Regions from separate parts of the Homo sapiens genome. Here region 1 is linked to region 2. The links come from fine-mapping of genetic effects on gene expression. Tissue or cell type: testis. Region 2 holds a variant in brackets; the other region holds the start of a gene. All regions are shown on one strand. Distances are from middle to middle.

Evidence for each region. PIP is the estimated chance that this variant, and not a neighbour inherited with it, causes the effect.
Region 1: it holds the start of TMEM233, and the variant in region 2 is fine-mapped to the expression of TMEM233 in testis (GTEx, PIP 0.91).

What each region holds. Positions count from the first base shown.
Region 1 is chr12:119,589,039-119,597,531 of GRCh38, forward strand. It overlaps TMEM233 (transmembrane protein 233), which reads left to right and starts at 4,736. Exons shown (of 3, transcript NM_001136534.3): 1 at 4,736-4,996. The coding sequence starts at 4,811. All of the region lies in intron 1 of PRKAB1-AS1 (PRKAB1, TMEM233 and CCDC60 antisense RNA 1), which reads right to left. RefSeq lists an enhancer at 4,724-5,297.
Region 2 is chr12:119,624,659-119,632,658 of GRCh38, forward strand. It overlaps TMEM233 (transmembrane protein 233), which reads left to right. Exons shown (of 3, transcript NM_001136534.3): 2 at 5,078-5,214. The region is part of intron 1 of PRKAB1-AS1 (PRKAB1, TMEM233 and CCDC60 antisense RNA 1); the gene reads right to left. It also overlaps the pseudogene RN7SKP197. Among named protein-coding and RNA genes, the nearest start is that of TMEM233, 35 kb to the left of the region's middle. The variant GC/G (reference allele first, on the strand shown) is at 3,321.

The DNA.
Region 1 (8,493 bases), 35 kb before region 2:
GGTTACTTGGATGACACCTCCTTCTGTTTATGTTTTTCTTCATTTTCTCAATTTTCTTAAATGAATACGTATTACTTTTACATTTGGAAATAAACTTGTTTCAAAGATCAAAAAGGCAAGTTGCTACACTAGAATCCAGAAAGCTACAGTAAGCCTTTCCCCTCTCCTAGGCTGGCTATTAGAAAGTTGCTTTCTCTTCTGTCTCATTTGAAAGAGGGTAGGTATTGCCACATTATTAAGCAATCAGCCAGTAGGGTTCATCCAAGAACAATAAACTGACCTCTCAAGAGAAAATTAGTGAAGCTCAGGAAATTAGAGCTGGAAACCCCCACTGAGTGATCTAATGCATCCCTCAAGAATCAGCACCATATACATTACATTTTCTGGTGTAGGCACTTTCTTTTCAATTTAATTTGAAAAGTTTCAAGTGATGGCAATTTCACTGCTACATCTTAGACCAGTCAACAAGCTATTAATCCATCTTCCCTGAGCAGAGCATAATAACTCCAATGAACTTCAGAGATATCCATTTAACTTTCTGGCCTGGACCTGCCAGCTGAACAAATATCTCAGACCGAGTTCAAATTCTGGCACCTCCTCTTAGCCAGAAGACTTTACACAAGTCCCTTTACCTATCTGTTCCTAGGTTTCCTCATTTGGGAAAAAGAAAACCTCATCACCTCCCTCAGAAAATTTGCTGTAGGAATTAAATGAGATGATACACACAGGGAATGCACTTAGTGCAACAGTGGTGCTCGGTCAATGTTTGGCGATTCTAGAGTGCTCGGCTCATGTTAAGCAGTTGTTTTCCTGGCAGAAGAAACAGTCCACAATGAGTCAACAATCCCTTCTTTTGGCTTTCCCTAGATGACACTAGTGGGTTACAGTGAACAATATAGTTCAAAACTTTGAAAAGCAAAATTTCATTTGGTACCCAAACCTTGGGCTACTGGCACCAACGAAATTAACTAGCCTCATCAACACCTGTGAAAAGAAGGGGGAAAAATAAAAATACAAATATTTTTAAAATAAATTAGGCTCAGATCACAAATATGGTTCAGAGAGCACTTTTTCATTGTGAATAAGAGCCAGAATTGGAAGCCCAGGAGGATGGGAAAAAGAAGACATGGAATGAAGAGTCACATTTGAGAATGAATCAATAGTTTGATGAATAATTCATGGAGAGGCTGAAGGAAAGAGAAGAAGAATGCTGCCAAGTACCTAACTTGGAGGACTAAATTCACAATTTATTCATTCAATGAATTATCTGTTGAGCACCTGCTAATGGCCAGGCACAGTTCTGGGTGTTTGGGATAACACAGCAAACAAAATGGAAAAAAATATCTGCCCTTGTGGAGCTTCCTTTCTAGTGGGAAAGACAGTAAATAAGAAGACAAATAAATAAAAAAGACCATGTCTGACATAGAAAATAAACAAGGTAATGGGATGGAGAATAAGAGGATGGGGTCCACTTTAGATATGATGGTCAGGGAAGGCCTCTGTCAGGCGGTAACATGTGAGTTAGTGGGTCCTGGAAGATGAGAAGGAACCAATAGTTAGAGAGGAGAGGAAGCATTCCAGGAGGAAAGAACAGTAGGTACAGAGACTTTGGGGTGGGAAAAGGTTAGGTATGTTAGAGAAACGGGGAAAAATGTCTATGTAATTGAAGTGCAGTAAGAAAGGAGAGAATTCTGGGCATGGTGGTGCATGCCTGTAATCCCAGCACTTTGGGAGGCTGAGGCGGGAGGATCGCTTGAGGCCAGGAGCTCGACGTTGCAGAGAGCTATGATTGCACAACTGCACTCCAGCCTGGGTGACAGAGCAAGGCTGTCTCTAAAAAATAAATAGTAAATAAATAAATAAATAAGAAAGGAGATACTTGGCAGAAGAGATTGGAAAAGTGAGCAGTGTTCATTGACCAAAGACCAAGCCTTGAGAAGCAAGTTCTTAGGGAAGACAATGAGTTCCTCTTTGACACATTGAGTTTGGGACACCTGAGAGGATTTCCAAGCTAAAGATCCTGGACTGTGTCCTAAGAATTAGAGACAGAACTGGGATCTGAGAAATTGCTCAGTTGCATCAGAATCACCAGGGAGTATTCTAAAAATACAGTTTTCTCAGGCATTAAAAGTACAGATTTCTGGCCAGGCGTGATGGCTCATGCCTATAATCCCAGCACTTTGGGAGGCCGAGGCAGGCAGATCACAGGGGCAGGTGATGGAGACCATCCTGGCTAACACGGTGAAACCCCGTCTCTACTAAAAATACAAAAAAATTAGCCAGGCGTGGTGGTGGGTGCCTGTAGTCCCAGCTACTCGGGAGACTGAGGCAGGAGAATGGCATGAACCTGGGAGGCAGAGCTTGCAGTGAGCCGAGATCGCACCACTGCACTCCAGCCTGGGTGACAGAGTGAGACTCCATCTCAAAAAAAAAAAAAAAAAAAGTACAGATTTCTGGGGTGCTACCTGAGAAATTCTAATCCAAGTAGGTCTTGATCAAAACCTGAAAATCATTTTTTTCAATACATCCAGGTAATTTTGGTCAATTCATTCAAGAAACATTTCTTGCATTCCTACTATGCACCAGGACAATTCTTAAGTGCTGGAAATATAGTTCTGAACAGGTTGGACAGGCTATAGTCTAGAGATAGAACAAACAGTGAACAAGTAAAGAAATAAATTACAATTGTGACACGCTACACACACAAAAAATAATAAACTGGCAAGAATAAAATAAGGATGGAGACCTACACTAGATAATCTACAAGAAGACCTCTCTTTGAGGAAGTGACTTGACCTGTCACCTGAGGAATAAGAAGGAGGAGCCTCCCAGCACTTTGGGAGGCCAAAGCGGGTGGATCATGAGGTCAGGAGTTCAAGACCAGCCTGGCCAAGATGGTGAAACCCTGTGTCTACTAAAAATACAAAAATTAGCTGGGCGTGGTGGCAGACACCTGTAATCCCAGCTACTCGGGAGGCTGAGGCAGAGAATTGCTTGAACCCAGGAGGTGGAGGTTGCAGTGAGCCGAGATCACACCACTGCACTCCAGCCTGGGTGACAGAGTGAGACTCCAACTCAAAGTAAAAAAAAAAAGAAGGAGGAGCCATGTGACAGCCAGGGAAAAACAGCCGAGGCAGAGGGAACAGCCAATGCAAAGACTTGGTTGAGAATTCAGTAGATGAATCTAATCTTTTAGTTACTCCCATTTTATTAATCCATCAAAATGAGAAAGAAGGCATGGCGGAGAATGTACTATTTCATCTTTGTGTGTTCACCCAGCAAGCTATACTAAGCACCTCCCTTGTACCAGGAACTGTGCCAGATGCTGACACAAAGATGAGCCAGATGACCCCTTCTCTCGGGGAGTGTGCAGTCCAATGAGGGAGGCAGATAACAAAATAAGTATGGCTCATGAGATAAGTGAGAATCTCCCAGGCAATCAGCTTATATTCTGAGAAAGCCAAGAAGATGATTAATAGTTTCAAGTATGATGATGTGAGCAATTGCTTTTGACACTGCATGATCAAATTATTTTCATTTCTTTGTGGTCCTGCAGCTCAGAATACCTGGATTTTTGGTGAAATATTAGCAAGGGATATCAAGTTTAGGATACTGTATAATGCACTATATGTTTCAGAATATAAGGAGAAATAGTATGCTAATAATAGCTAATATTTATTGAGCACATGGATTGACCTGGATAATGTACCATCTCATAGAAGAGTCACTACGACTTTATGAGGCAGGGACTATTATTTCCCCTTTTTCAGATGGAGAAATAGGGGCTTAGCAAGATGAAGGGGCTTTCCTGAAGTGACAATTTCCTAGTTCTGTCTGGATTCAAGCTTCAGTTCTGGTCCATACGGCCCTCTCATGAATAGCTTAGACACTGATACAATTGCTTTTCTCACACTAGTCCCCAAAGTGGATACCTTGTTCTTCTTCCCAGCCCACTCATCCATCTAGGTTGCCTAGGCCAGCCTGATCTACCTGCATTTCTCCCCAGGGGTCCTGCAGGTGGAAAAGTGGAAAGAAGAATTCCTTGTTTCCACACTGGGGAGGGCACCTGGACGGGCATGGACCGGGCAGTGCCCACTGACTGACTATACTGGACTCCAGTCTCTTGAGCCCCAAGTAGAATGTGGAAAGCTTTGAGGCCAAAGCTGGGCACCTGGTTCCCACCCCACCTGGGGGAGGGGGTCGGGGGGAGGAGAAATTCCTGGGGCTCAGTGTTCAAGGTCTGAGGCACAGGAGACAAATCAAATGCCCAGGCACCAGACAGTTAAGGTAAAACGTTGAAGTCAAGAGGAAGTAGTGAGTCTGTTGCCAACTGGATAGGGTTGGTCCTGTCCCATCTAAATGTATTAGAATTAAGTGGCTTTTAAAAATGAGCTGGTCATCTTCAGCCCACGGGCTGGCCAATTTGGAACTTAATGGGCCTTTGCGTCCTCCTTCCCTGAGCCTCCTTTTATTCCAGACTTCTCAGTGTGAGTCTGTGCGTCCCTCCGACGATCTCAGGGAGTGGGGTGCCTTCATCTGCCTGTTCCCTGTTCCTCAGGCTGACGCTCCCGCTGTCCTCCCCGCCTCCCCTCACTCCTTTTCTCCCTCCCTTCCTCCTTGTGGGGAGGCTCTTGGCCAGGGTCCCTGAGCCCGGGCGGGTGCTGGCAGAGGACGCAGAAGGGGTGAGGTCACGTCTCCCTTGAGCCCCGAGCCGCTGGCTTTTCAGAGCCTCGCCACAAGCCGGCGGCCAGAGCCCCAGACCACACAGACCGTGCGCTCCTCCGCCCTCCCGGCGCCGCCGGCCTCGCCCATGTCTCAGTACGCCCCTAGCCCGGACTTCAAGAGGGCTTTGGACAGCAGTCCCGAGGCCAACACTGAAGATGACAAGACCGAGGAGGACGTGCCCATGCCCAAGAACTACCTGTGGCTCACCATCGTCTCGTGTTTTTGCCCTGCGTACCCCATCAACATCGTGGCTTTGGTCTTTTCCATCATGGTGAGTGAATCACGGCCAGAGGCAGCCTGGGAGGAGAGACCCGGGCGGCTTTGAGCCCCTGCAGGGGAGTCCGCGCGCTCTCTGCGGCTCCCTTCCTCACGGCCCGGCCCGCGCTAGGTGTTCTTTGTCCTCGCACCTCCTCCTCACCTTTCTCGGGCTCTCAGAGCTCTCCCCGCAATCATCAGCACCTCCTCTGCACTCCTCGTGGTACTCAGAGCCCTGATCAAGCTTCCCCCAGGCTAGCTTTCCTCTTCTTTCCAGCTCCCAGGGTGCGTTTCCTCTCCAACCCGGGGAAGTTCTTCCGTGGACTTTGCTGACTCCTCTGACCTTCCTAGGCACTTGCCCGGGGCTTCTCAACCCTCTTTTCTAGAGCCCCAGTGCGCGCCACCCTAGCGAGCGCAGTAAGCTCATACCCCGAGCATGCAGGCTCTACGTTCCTTTCCCTGCCGCTCCGGGGGCTCCTGCTCTCCAGCGCCCAGGACTGTCTCTATCTCAGCCTGTGCTCCCTTCTCTCTTTGCTGCGCCCAAGGGCACCGCTTCCGCCACTCTCCGGGGGGTCCCCAGGCGATTCCTGATGCCCCCTCCTTGATCCCGTTTCCGCGCTTTGGCACGGCACGCTCTGTCCAGGCAACAGTTTCCTCTCGCTTCTTCCTACACCCAACTTCCTCTCCTTGCCTCCCTCCGGCGCCCCCTTTTTAACGCGCCCGAGGCTGGCTCACACCCACTACCTCTTTAGGCCTTTCTTAGGCTCCCCGTGTGCCCCCCTCACCAGCAAAGTGGGTGCGCCTCTCTTACTCTTTCTACCCAGCGCGTCGTAGTTCCTCCCCGTTTGCTGCGCACTGGCCCTAACCTCTCTTCTCTTGGTGTCCCCCAGAGCTCCCAGGCGCCCCTCCACCGCTCTGTCCTGCGCCCGGGGCTCTCCCGGGAATGAACTAGGGGATTCCACGCAACGTGCGGCTCCGCCCGCCCTCTGCGCTCAGACCTCCCGAGCTGCCCGCCTCTCTAGGAGTGGCCGCTGGGGCCTCTAGTCCGCCCTTCCGGAGCTCAGCTCCCTAGCCCTCTTCAACCCTGGTAGGAACACCCGAGCGAACCCCACCAGGAGGGCGACGAGCGCCTGCTAGGCCCTCGCCTTATTGACTGCAGCAGCTGGCCCGGGGGTGGCGGCGGGGTGAGGTTCGTACCGGCACTGTCCCGGGACAACCCTTGCAGTTGCGCTCCCTCCCCCACCGGCTCACCTCGCCTGCAGCTGGGCCACGGAACTCCCCGGCCACAGACGCAGAGCCCTGATTCAGCGCTGTGAAAATCGCTAGCCACCCGTCCCCCATCAAGTCCGCCCACACTTGCCCACGGGTGGTGGCACCATATTCGATTCGTGGGCACCTGCAAGGCTCCATTTGCACCCGTAACTTGCCCTTTCCCAAACCCGGTTTGTGGACAGCGTCTGCACCGATATGAAAGCGTGCAGCCGCTGAAGTTCAGACAAGTCTGTATTCAAATCCCAATTCTCCCACTTTCTAGCTGTGTGATCTCTGAAGTCACTGCATCTCTGAACCTCAGTCTCTTTGTAAAACCAGAATAATCATAGCCATGTTTCTTGGGGTTGTTGGGAGCATTCATGACATAAATAATTGTAAAGTGCTTAGAACAGTGACCAGCACGGTATCTTTACAAAATCTTTACTCAAATGTCACTTCATGAGGCCTTCTGTGATTACTGTTTAAAATCAGGACCCCCATCCACCCACCCCGCGCAAGCTCTGTTCTTCCTTCCCTGCTACCTTTTGACCAAATTACTTCTCTCCATCTGATATAGTATTTTAATTATTTGTATGTTTACAGTCTGTGTCCCTCTCATTAGAATATAAGCTCCATAAGGGCAGGAATATTTGTTGGTTCCTGTATCTTCAGCATCTAGAAGAAAATGTGGCACGTGGTAGATGCTTAATAAGTATCATGAAATGAATGCATGCATGAATGAATGGTGTGGATGAATCATTAACCTTTTTTTCCCATCCTGGAGGCCCGGAAGCCGTCGCATCCGGTTCCTTCCGACCAACCAGCCAATTTCCTCCCTTCCTTCCTCTCCCCATATATCCGGTCTTGACTTTTTTTGCCGAGAGTCTGGAAACAATGCTGCAGCCAAATTCTCCAGGCAGCAGCAGACTGTCTGGCTGGCACTGGTGCCCACATTCTATCCTGCTTTATTAATGAAGCAGCCAATTCACTCCTTTCCCAGTGCCACTTAGAAAACTGCCTGCAAAGGCTTTTTCCCTCATTGGTCTGAAATGAGCTGGCACTCCAGATGGTAGTGACAGGTCAGATATTAATGATGCTGCTTGGTATGCCCTGGGAGATGAGGTTTGCACATGCTTTGAATTGAAACTTCCTTTTCTAATCCCCTCTTCCCCATTCCCTCCCCCACTGGAGACAGTTTACTATGGACAAGTTTGTATCTTTTTTTTTTTTTTTTTTTTTTGAGACGGAGTCTTGCTCTGTCACCCAGGCTGGAGTGCAGTGGCACAATCTCGGCTCACTGCAACCTCCACCTCCCGGGTTCAAGCGATCCTTCCACCCCAGCCACCCCAACCAGCTGGGACTACAGACGCCGGCCACCACGCCCGACTAATTTTTGTATTTTTAGTAGAGACAGGGTTTGACCATGTTGCCCAGGCTGATCTCAAACTCCTGACCTCAAGTGATCTGCCCGCCTCAGCCTCCCAGAGTGCTGGGATTACATGGGTGAGCCACTGCGCCCGGCCAAGTTTTGTACCTTTTTAAAGCCTTGGTTTCTTCATCTATAAAATGGGAATGTGAAAGCTGTTTTAAGTTGAGCAAAACTGTTGTAAGGATGAAACAAAACAAAGCATTCTAGTTCTTAGCACTATGCTAGGTACATGCAATAATTGTCAGACAGATGTATAGATTTGGAACCTGGAGATATCATGTTACATATAAAAACAAACAGAAATTCTAAACAGTGTGTCCTACACCCTTCCTGTTGCACTGGAAGTCTTTTCCCATTGATATATAGTGCAGCTCTGGACTTGATCAGTTTCATCACAAGGACTCCAAAGGACAAAGGACAAAGAGGAAGAGGAAGGATGTGCAGTAGAAAGGTGGGAGACCAATTCTGCCAGGCGTTTGCTTCCCCTAGGGTCTCTTGTGATGTTCAGTCCTGGCAATTTTCAACTCTCACTTCTCTGTAATTTATGATTTGTGGTGCCCTCAATGATTTGGGGTGTTACTGGCATTTGGTGGAAAAAGCCGAAGTACTAATGTCTGCCATGCTAGGGGCTGTCCCCCAGTGAAGAATGGGCACATTCCCAATACCAAGACCATCCCAATGAAGAAGCACTGTAGGATGATGCAAATTGATATAAACATGGATGTGTGGAACATACTGACAAGGCTCAAAATAATTAGTTTCCAGAATGGTAAAAAAAAAAAGAGCCAACAATCTCAAAACAATCAATGCTTAAATATTTATTACACCAAGCC
Region 2 (8,000 bases):
ATTGTGGTTGTCAGGGGCTGGGGAGAGGATGAATGGGAGTGAGTATTTTACAGGTATGGAGTTTCCATTGGGGAAGATGAAAATTCCAGAGATAGATGGTGGGTCATGGTTGCACAGCAATGCGAATGTACATAATGCCACTAAACAGTATACTTAAAAATGATTAAAAGATTAAATTGTAGGCATATTTTACCACAACAAAAAAATCACACACAAAAAACATGTGCCACCTGGTCCCCACATCAGTTAAATCAGAATCTCTCCATGATAGAGCCTGGTTCTCTGTATTTTTTTTTTACTACCCAGGTGGTTCTAATGAACACCCAAGCTGGAGAACTCCAGAATTCGTGACTTAGAATTCAGGAACTCACCTTGCTGGAAGTCCCTAACATTGTTTTTAGTTCTCGCTCTCTCATTCACACAAGAGGCCTAAAAGCAATTCCTCTTCATTGTTGAGTCTTCCCACCTGTTGCTGACTAAGGTGGCCCAGATCCAAGAATTAATGGAAGGTTCCGGAAGCAGAAAGCTCTGTGGTATACTGGGTATTTCTCTGGCTTGTAATTGTCTGCATATGTCTAATCCCCCTTAATAGTCCAGGAAGAGGAGCAATTATTACTGAAGTGCTGTGATTTCAGAATCAAGGAAGAGGTTCTCAGTGAAATCTGTAATTTCACAGCACTGACGGAGTCCTTCTGTACATAACTTCTTCTTTTTTTTTTTTTTTCCTTTGATACAAGGTCTCACTCTGTCATCCAGGCTGGAGTGCAGTGGCACGATCATAGCTCACTGCAGCCTCAAACTCGTGGGCTCAGGTGATCCTGCCACCTCAGCCTCCTGAGAAACTTAGACTACAGGTGTGCGCATACATAACTTTTAAATAAATATTTCCAGTCTTCTTTGGGCTACAGCACAACTGTTGGGTGACTCTCAGCCATGGGATGATAAAGAGAGCTTATTTTTCAAAACTGTGTGTTCTTTTTATTTTGAAAAATTGCAGGCCTCAAATATAAGTGAGCAAATAACACAATGACCTATATAATCACCAAACTGCATCAATAGTTAACATTTTTTGCCATTTTTATTCTTATTTTGCTGAAAATTTAGGTACAGGTTGCAATAATATCAGTTCTAGATAATGCAGCCTGTATCTTCTGTAGAAAAAAAAATTCTCTTGTGTAACTAAAATACAAATATCACACTCAAGAAATTTAACATTATTATTATCTAACATTTACTCTACACTCGAATTTCCCCAATTATCCCGAAGATATCTGTAATTGCTACTTATTTATTAATCCTAGACACGATCAAGGATCATACATTGCATATAATTGTTAGGTTCATCTAGTTTTCTTTAATCTAGGAGAGTCTCCTGATGTGTTTGGGTGGGTGGGTGTGCATGTCTTTCACGACATTGACTTTTTAAAAATAATTTCAAGCCATTTGTCTTGCAGAAAGTTGCTCAAATAGAATTTACCCTATTATTCCCTCTTAATTAAAAAAAGCTAGGTATATTGAGAAAACTACATAGGGCCAGGTGCAGTGGCTCATGCCTGTAATCCCAACACTCTGAGAGGCCGAGGCAAGTGGATTGCTTGAGGCTGGAAGTTCGAGACCAGCCTGGCCAACATGGTGAAACTCTCTCTGCTAAAAATACAAAAATTTGCCACGCGTGGTGGCAGGCACCTTTAGTCTCAGCTACTCAGGAGGCTGAGGCGGGAGAATGGCTTGAACCCAGGAGGCAGAGGTTGCAGTGAGCTGAGATCACGTCACTGCACTCCAGCCTGGGAAACAAAGCAAGACTCCGTCTCCGGAAAAAAAAAAAAAAGAAGAAAAAGGAGGAGGAGGAGGAGGAGGAGGAGAAGGGAGAAGGGAGAAGGGAGAAGAGAAGAGAAGAGAAGAGAAGAGAAGAGAAGAGAAGAGAAGAGAAGAGAAGAGAAAAAAGAAAAGAAAAGAAAACTACACAGGTAAAATGTCCTTGCTAGGGTATTTTATCAGAAGGCACATGATGTCATTTGGTCAAGATTCTCTTATTATTAAAGGGAGAAGAACAGTATCTGGCCTTCATTTCAGCAGCAAGCAGTCTCTGAATACCTCTTCTTTGCCTGGCAGTGTACTATGTCCTGCAGACCTCAAAGATGCCCTCAAAAACTTCACATTCTGTGGGGAAACAGAAATATTCATGCACTCATTCAGTCAATAACATATTTCTTGAGCTCCAACAATGTGCCAGACACCACTCTAAGTACTAGAAACAAGGATGATATTTAAATATTTAACAAGTTTGGCATGAGCACAGAATCAGAGAAGATGCTCTGCTGAGCCCAATAACCCTTAAGTTGCTGGATCATGGGGAAACCGGGGAAAAGGCAGAGGAGCAAGTGGGATGGCTGGGATATTGGGGAAGGCGGACAAGCTTCAGAGTAGCTGCTATTTATCAGTGAGTACAGAGTATTTCAACATTTTAACAGCTGGGAATGACAGCCGTGGCTTGGGCATGGAGATGAAAAATTCAGCCAAGGTCCCTGACCTCATGGATTGACCTTCTAGTGCAGGAGTGGGCGAACTTCTTTGGTAAATGACCAAATAGTAAATATTTTTGGCCTTGCAGGCCCTACATTCTCTGGACAGAGAGGCAAAGTCCCAACTACTCAACTCTGTCTTTGTAGCACAAAAGTAGTGTGTCAGTCCATTTTGCACTGCTATAAAGAAATACCTAACACTGAATGATTTATAAAGAAAGGAGGTTTGTTTGGTGCATGGTTCTGCAGGCTAAACAAACATGGCGCCAGTATCTTCTTCCGGTGAGGACTCAGGAAGCCTTTACTCATTGTGGAAAGCAAGGGGAAAACAATTGTGTCATGTGGCAAGACAGAGAGAGAGAGCAAGAGAACGATGCCAGGCTCTTTTAAACAACCAGCTCACACATGAACTAACAGAGTGAGAACTCATTACTGCAGGGAGGGCACCAAGCCATTAATGAGGGTCTGCCCCCTGACCACAACATCTCCCACCAGGCCCCACCTCCAACATTGGGGATCACGTTTACACATGAGATTTGGAGGGAACAAACATCCAAACTGAGGTAGGAGGCGGGACTTGACTCCAGACCAGATTGAAGACCGGCTGAAACAGGGAAAAGGCACTCAAAGCTCCTCTCCATAAGACATGCTCACCAGTGCCATGACAGTTTACCATTGCTATGGCAACACCCAGAAGCTACCACCCCTTTCCAGGGCAATGACTCGGAAGTTGTCACCCCTTTTCAGGGCCACGACCCAGAAGTTACTACCCCTTATCTAAAAATTTCTTAACAACCT[GC/G]CCCTTAATTTACATATAGTTAAAAGTGAGTATAAATCTGACTGCAGCACTGCCCTGAGCTGCTGCTCTCAACACGCTACCTATGGGGTAGCCTTGCTCTGCAGGAGCAGTCATGGAGCTGTAACTCAACCAGGGCTCTAATGCTGCTGCCTCAATCAAGCTGCTTTTATATTTTATTTTTTTTATTTTTATTTTTGAGACGGAGTTTCACTCTTGTTGCCCAGGCTGGAGTGCAATGGCAAAAATCTCAGCTCACTGCAACCTCTGCCTCCCAGGTTCAAGCAATTCTCCTGCCTCAGCTTCCCGAGTAGCTGGGATTACAGGTGCCTGCCATCACACCCGGCTAATTTTTTGTATTTTCAGTAGAGACAGAGTTTTACCATGTTGGCCAGGATGGTCTTGAACTCCTGACCTCAGGTGATCCACCTGCCTCGACCTCCCAAAGTGCTGGGATTACAGGCGTGAGCCAGCACGCCCGGCCTAAAGCTGCTTTCTTCTACCACCAGCTCACTCTTTTTTTTTTTTTTTTTTTTTTTTTGAGATGGAGTCTTGCTCAGTCGCCCAGGCTGGAGTGCAGTGGCACGATCTTGGCTCACTGCAAGCTCCGCCTCCCAGATTCACGCCATTCTCTTGCCTCAGCCTCCCAAGTAGCTGGGACTATAGGCGCCCGCCACCACGCCCGGCTAATTTTTTTTTATTTTTAGTAGAGACGGGGTTTCACTGTGTTAGCCAGGATGGTCTTGATCTCCTGACCTCGTGATCTGCCCATCTCATCCTCCCAAAGTGCTGGGATTACAGGCATGAGCCACCACGCCCGGCCCACCAGCTCACTCTTAAATTCTTTCCTGAGAGAGGTCAAAAAACTTCCCAGGCTAGGCCCCAGTTCTGGGGCTCACCTGCCCTACAACAAAACTATATCAAATAGCCACAGACAGTAGTAAACAAATGAGTGTGACTATGTTCCAAATAAGCTTTATTTACAAAAACAGGCAGCAGGCTGGATTTGGCCCATGGGCCATGATTTGCAAATCCCATTCTAGTGAACAAGACAGACATACTCATTTGTGTTTTTATGCTACAAATACTTATCCAGCATCTTCTACATGGCAAGTATTGCACTGGACACTGGTATGCCGAACAAGACAGAAGGCCGGGCGTGGTGGCTCATGCCTGTAATCCCAGCACTCTGGGAGACCAAGGTGGATGGATTACTTGAGGTCAGGAGTTTGAGACCAGCCTGGCCAATGTGGTAAAACCCTGTCTCTACTAAAAATACAAAAATTAGCCAGGCGTGGTGGCGGGCACCTGTAATCCCAGCTACTTGGGAGGCTGAGGCAGGAGAATTGCTTGAACCCGGGAGGCGGAGGTTGCCATGAGCCAAGGTTGTGCCACTGCACTTCAGCCTGGGTGACAGAGTGAGACTCTGTCTCAAAAAAAAAAAGAAAAGATAAAAGACAGACGATGACCCCTGCCCACGTTGCACTTACATGCTGGTGGGAGAGACAAAATCTTGTTACGTAAATGCTAAGACAAAAGTCATCAGGAAATACAGAGGGGGCAGTTAACTCATCCTTAGAGTTTAGGGAAGGATTCCTGGAGGAGGGGATGACTGTGTTGTTTGCTTAGCAGGCTGTCAGTGAGATGAGCAAAGTCACCAGAGAGCTCTTGGAACCTTTTCATCAGGACAGCCTGAGGACCTCCATCCCTTTCCCTGTGGGTTATCTGTCATCACCAGCTCTTCCCTTCTGTCCCCCAGTCTCTGAACAGCTACAACGATGGAGACTACGAAGGAGCCAGGCGGCTTGGGCGGAATGCTAAGTGGGTAGCCATCGCCTCCATCATCATTGGCCTTCTCATCATCGGCATTTCTTGTGCAGTTCACTTCACAAGGAAGTAAGTAGGCTTTTTGAATCCCTCCCCATGTCAAACGCCCTTTCTCGAACGCCCGTTGGAATCTGTTAGGGTAGATTAGGTTATGCTCCAGTAACAACCCCAAGCCAAAGGGTTTTCATGTTTTCTTCTCAGAATAAATTTGTCCCAGTCCAGAGGGACATATCAACAGTGTGGATCTTCTAGTGCGGGAGTGGGTGAACTCCTTTGGTAAATGACCAAATAGTTAATATTTCTGGCCTTACAGGCCCTACATCCTCTGGACAGAGGGACATAGTCCCAACTACTCAACTCAGTCTTTGTAGCACAAAAGTAGTGTGTTAGTCCATTCTGCATTGCTATAAAGAAATACCTCAGACTGAGTGATTTATAAAAAAAGAAGGTTTGGATGCTTCTTTGGATCAGGTCAACAATATGGATCCATTACATGGATCATATAGGTCAGTGGAAGGTCTCTCCTCCACACAGTCATGCAGGGTCCCACGCTATACAAAGCTGCACCATCTTGTAGCTGCTCTATCTAGGACAGAAGTCAACAAACTTTGTCTGTAAAGGGCCAGATAGTAAATCTTTTAAGCCTTGCAGGCCATATGGTCCCGATCATGGTCTCTGGCACAGCTACTTAGCTCTGCCATTTTAGCACAAAAGCAGCCATAGACAATATAGAAATGAACAGGCGTGGCTGTGTTCCAATAAAACTTTATTTACAACAACAGGCATCTGTCTGTGGGCTGTAGTTTGCCAACTTCAGATCTAGAACATGAGGTGTCCTCAGGCAAAGGCGGGGGAGAGGAAGACTGGAGAATCCCACATGGGCTTTTTACTGCCTAGCGACAAATGTCGCTTAGGCTTACATTGACTGAAATCAGTCACGTAATCCCACCTAACTGTAAGAGGGTAGGAAATGTGGGAGAATAAATGGGATATTTAGGATTGCTATTTGCTCTGCCCTAGCACATCATCTGCTAAATAAACTCCTACTTGCATCAAACTAGCATAACTGTTTTAGTTTAAGGGCAGAAAGGTCACTACATATTTTTGGTATTGACAAGGAGCTCTCATCTCATGAAGAGATGGATGCTGCTGATGTGTTGTCCCTCTGGACTGGGACAAATTTATTCTGATTTCTCTAACCAGCTCAGATGGGCTCCATCTGCTAGACTCAATAACACTTTCCGTCAGAGGTTTGACAGACAGCAAGGTCATGTGATAGGCAACTCAGACCCAGAAATGACAAGTCCAGATCCATCTCTGTCTTGCTGTGTAATTTCTGGTAAGACAGATAAGAATGCTGAGAAATTCTTTCACTTTTCTGCCACAGCAGCATGGCTACTCCTATACCCTTGACCAAAGTCCTACACCCATCAAACTGAGAAGGTCAACCTCTTTCTCTTGGTTGACAAAGGAGGCTCACCCAGATGGGTGAGGGAGGAAGGAGACCTCTTTTGACATTCCAGATCAGCCAACCCAACCTTGGCAACCAAGACAGTAGCAGATGTCATGGTAGATCCACTTCCTATCAGAGAAGGCAGACCCAGGAACAACCAGTGGCAGCTGGGTAGAGGGGAAGATGTCAAAACAGAAGTGTCACAAAAGAAAATTAAATGGCTTTGGCCAAATAAAAGAGAAAAGGACACTCAAACATGAAAGGAAACTCAAGGTTTCTTGCCTGCAGGATGGCAAATTTGATGTTGGCCCATGAAGAGGAAGATGGTTGGAGAATACACGTGAATGAACCTGACTATATTCTTAAGAGAAGGTGTAAGGTGCTTGTGAACTTGTGAGCAGGGGAGCCACAGAGTGTGGGTTTAATGGTGCAGTTTTGGCACCAGACTGCCTGGACCCAGGTCCCAGTCACCACTTATTCACTGTGAGACCTTCAGCCAATTGTTTAACATTCCTGAACCTCAGTTTCCTCACCTGTAAAATGAGAATAATAGTAGTACCCATTTCATAAAGCTATTGTAAAGGTTAACTGGATGACCCACAGAATGTGTAGGTTGGTGTCTCTGTTCTTTAGTGGGTGCACAAAAATGTAAACCATTTATTAATCCCATTATTACTAATATTATCAATGTTACTGGGAAAGGACCTCAGAATTCAAGATGCCATTAAATAGAATTCAAGGCTTTATATTTATGAGCCAAACAAAGGACAATGTTCTAAGGGAATGAGACCAAGCCTTGGCTTGACTCCTGGGAACTTGGGAAAATGCATACTGCCTAGATTAGTGTTTGAGCTAAGTGGGTTATAATAATAGCAGCTGACACTAACATAGACCTTGACATATGCCAGGTACTGTTCTAAGCTCTTAACATTAATTAATCCTCATTGAGTCTTCACAGCAACCCAAAGAGGTAGATAGGTATTATTATCCCTATTTTGTAGATGAGGAAACCGAGACTCAGAGAGGTAAAGTGACTTGCCCAAAGCCTCACAGCTAGTTAGTGGAAAAGGTAGGATTTAAAACCAGGATAGTGTCGCTCTTCAGGCTGTGTTCTTAGCCAAACTCTGCACTGCCGCTAAGTCAATATGTTCCTGCTAGTACACCCAGTAACAAAGGCCAGTAAGTGGTACTTGCTTTGTGGCTAACTCCAGGATTGATTTACGGGGGAATGGTATGGTGAGGTTTCATCCTACAGAAATGTGTGATGAGTCAGGGCTAAGGTTCACAAAATCAAAGGAGTACAGGGGTCAGGGGAAGGACATACATGAGGTAGCCTGGTTATAGGACAATAGGAAGTGGTGGGGACCATGGTAATTTCAAAAGCACAGTTTAAAGGAAGCAG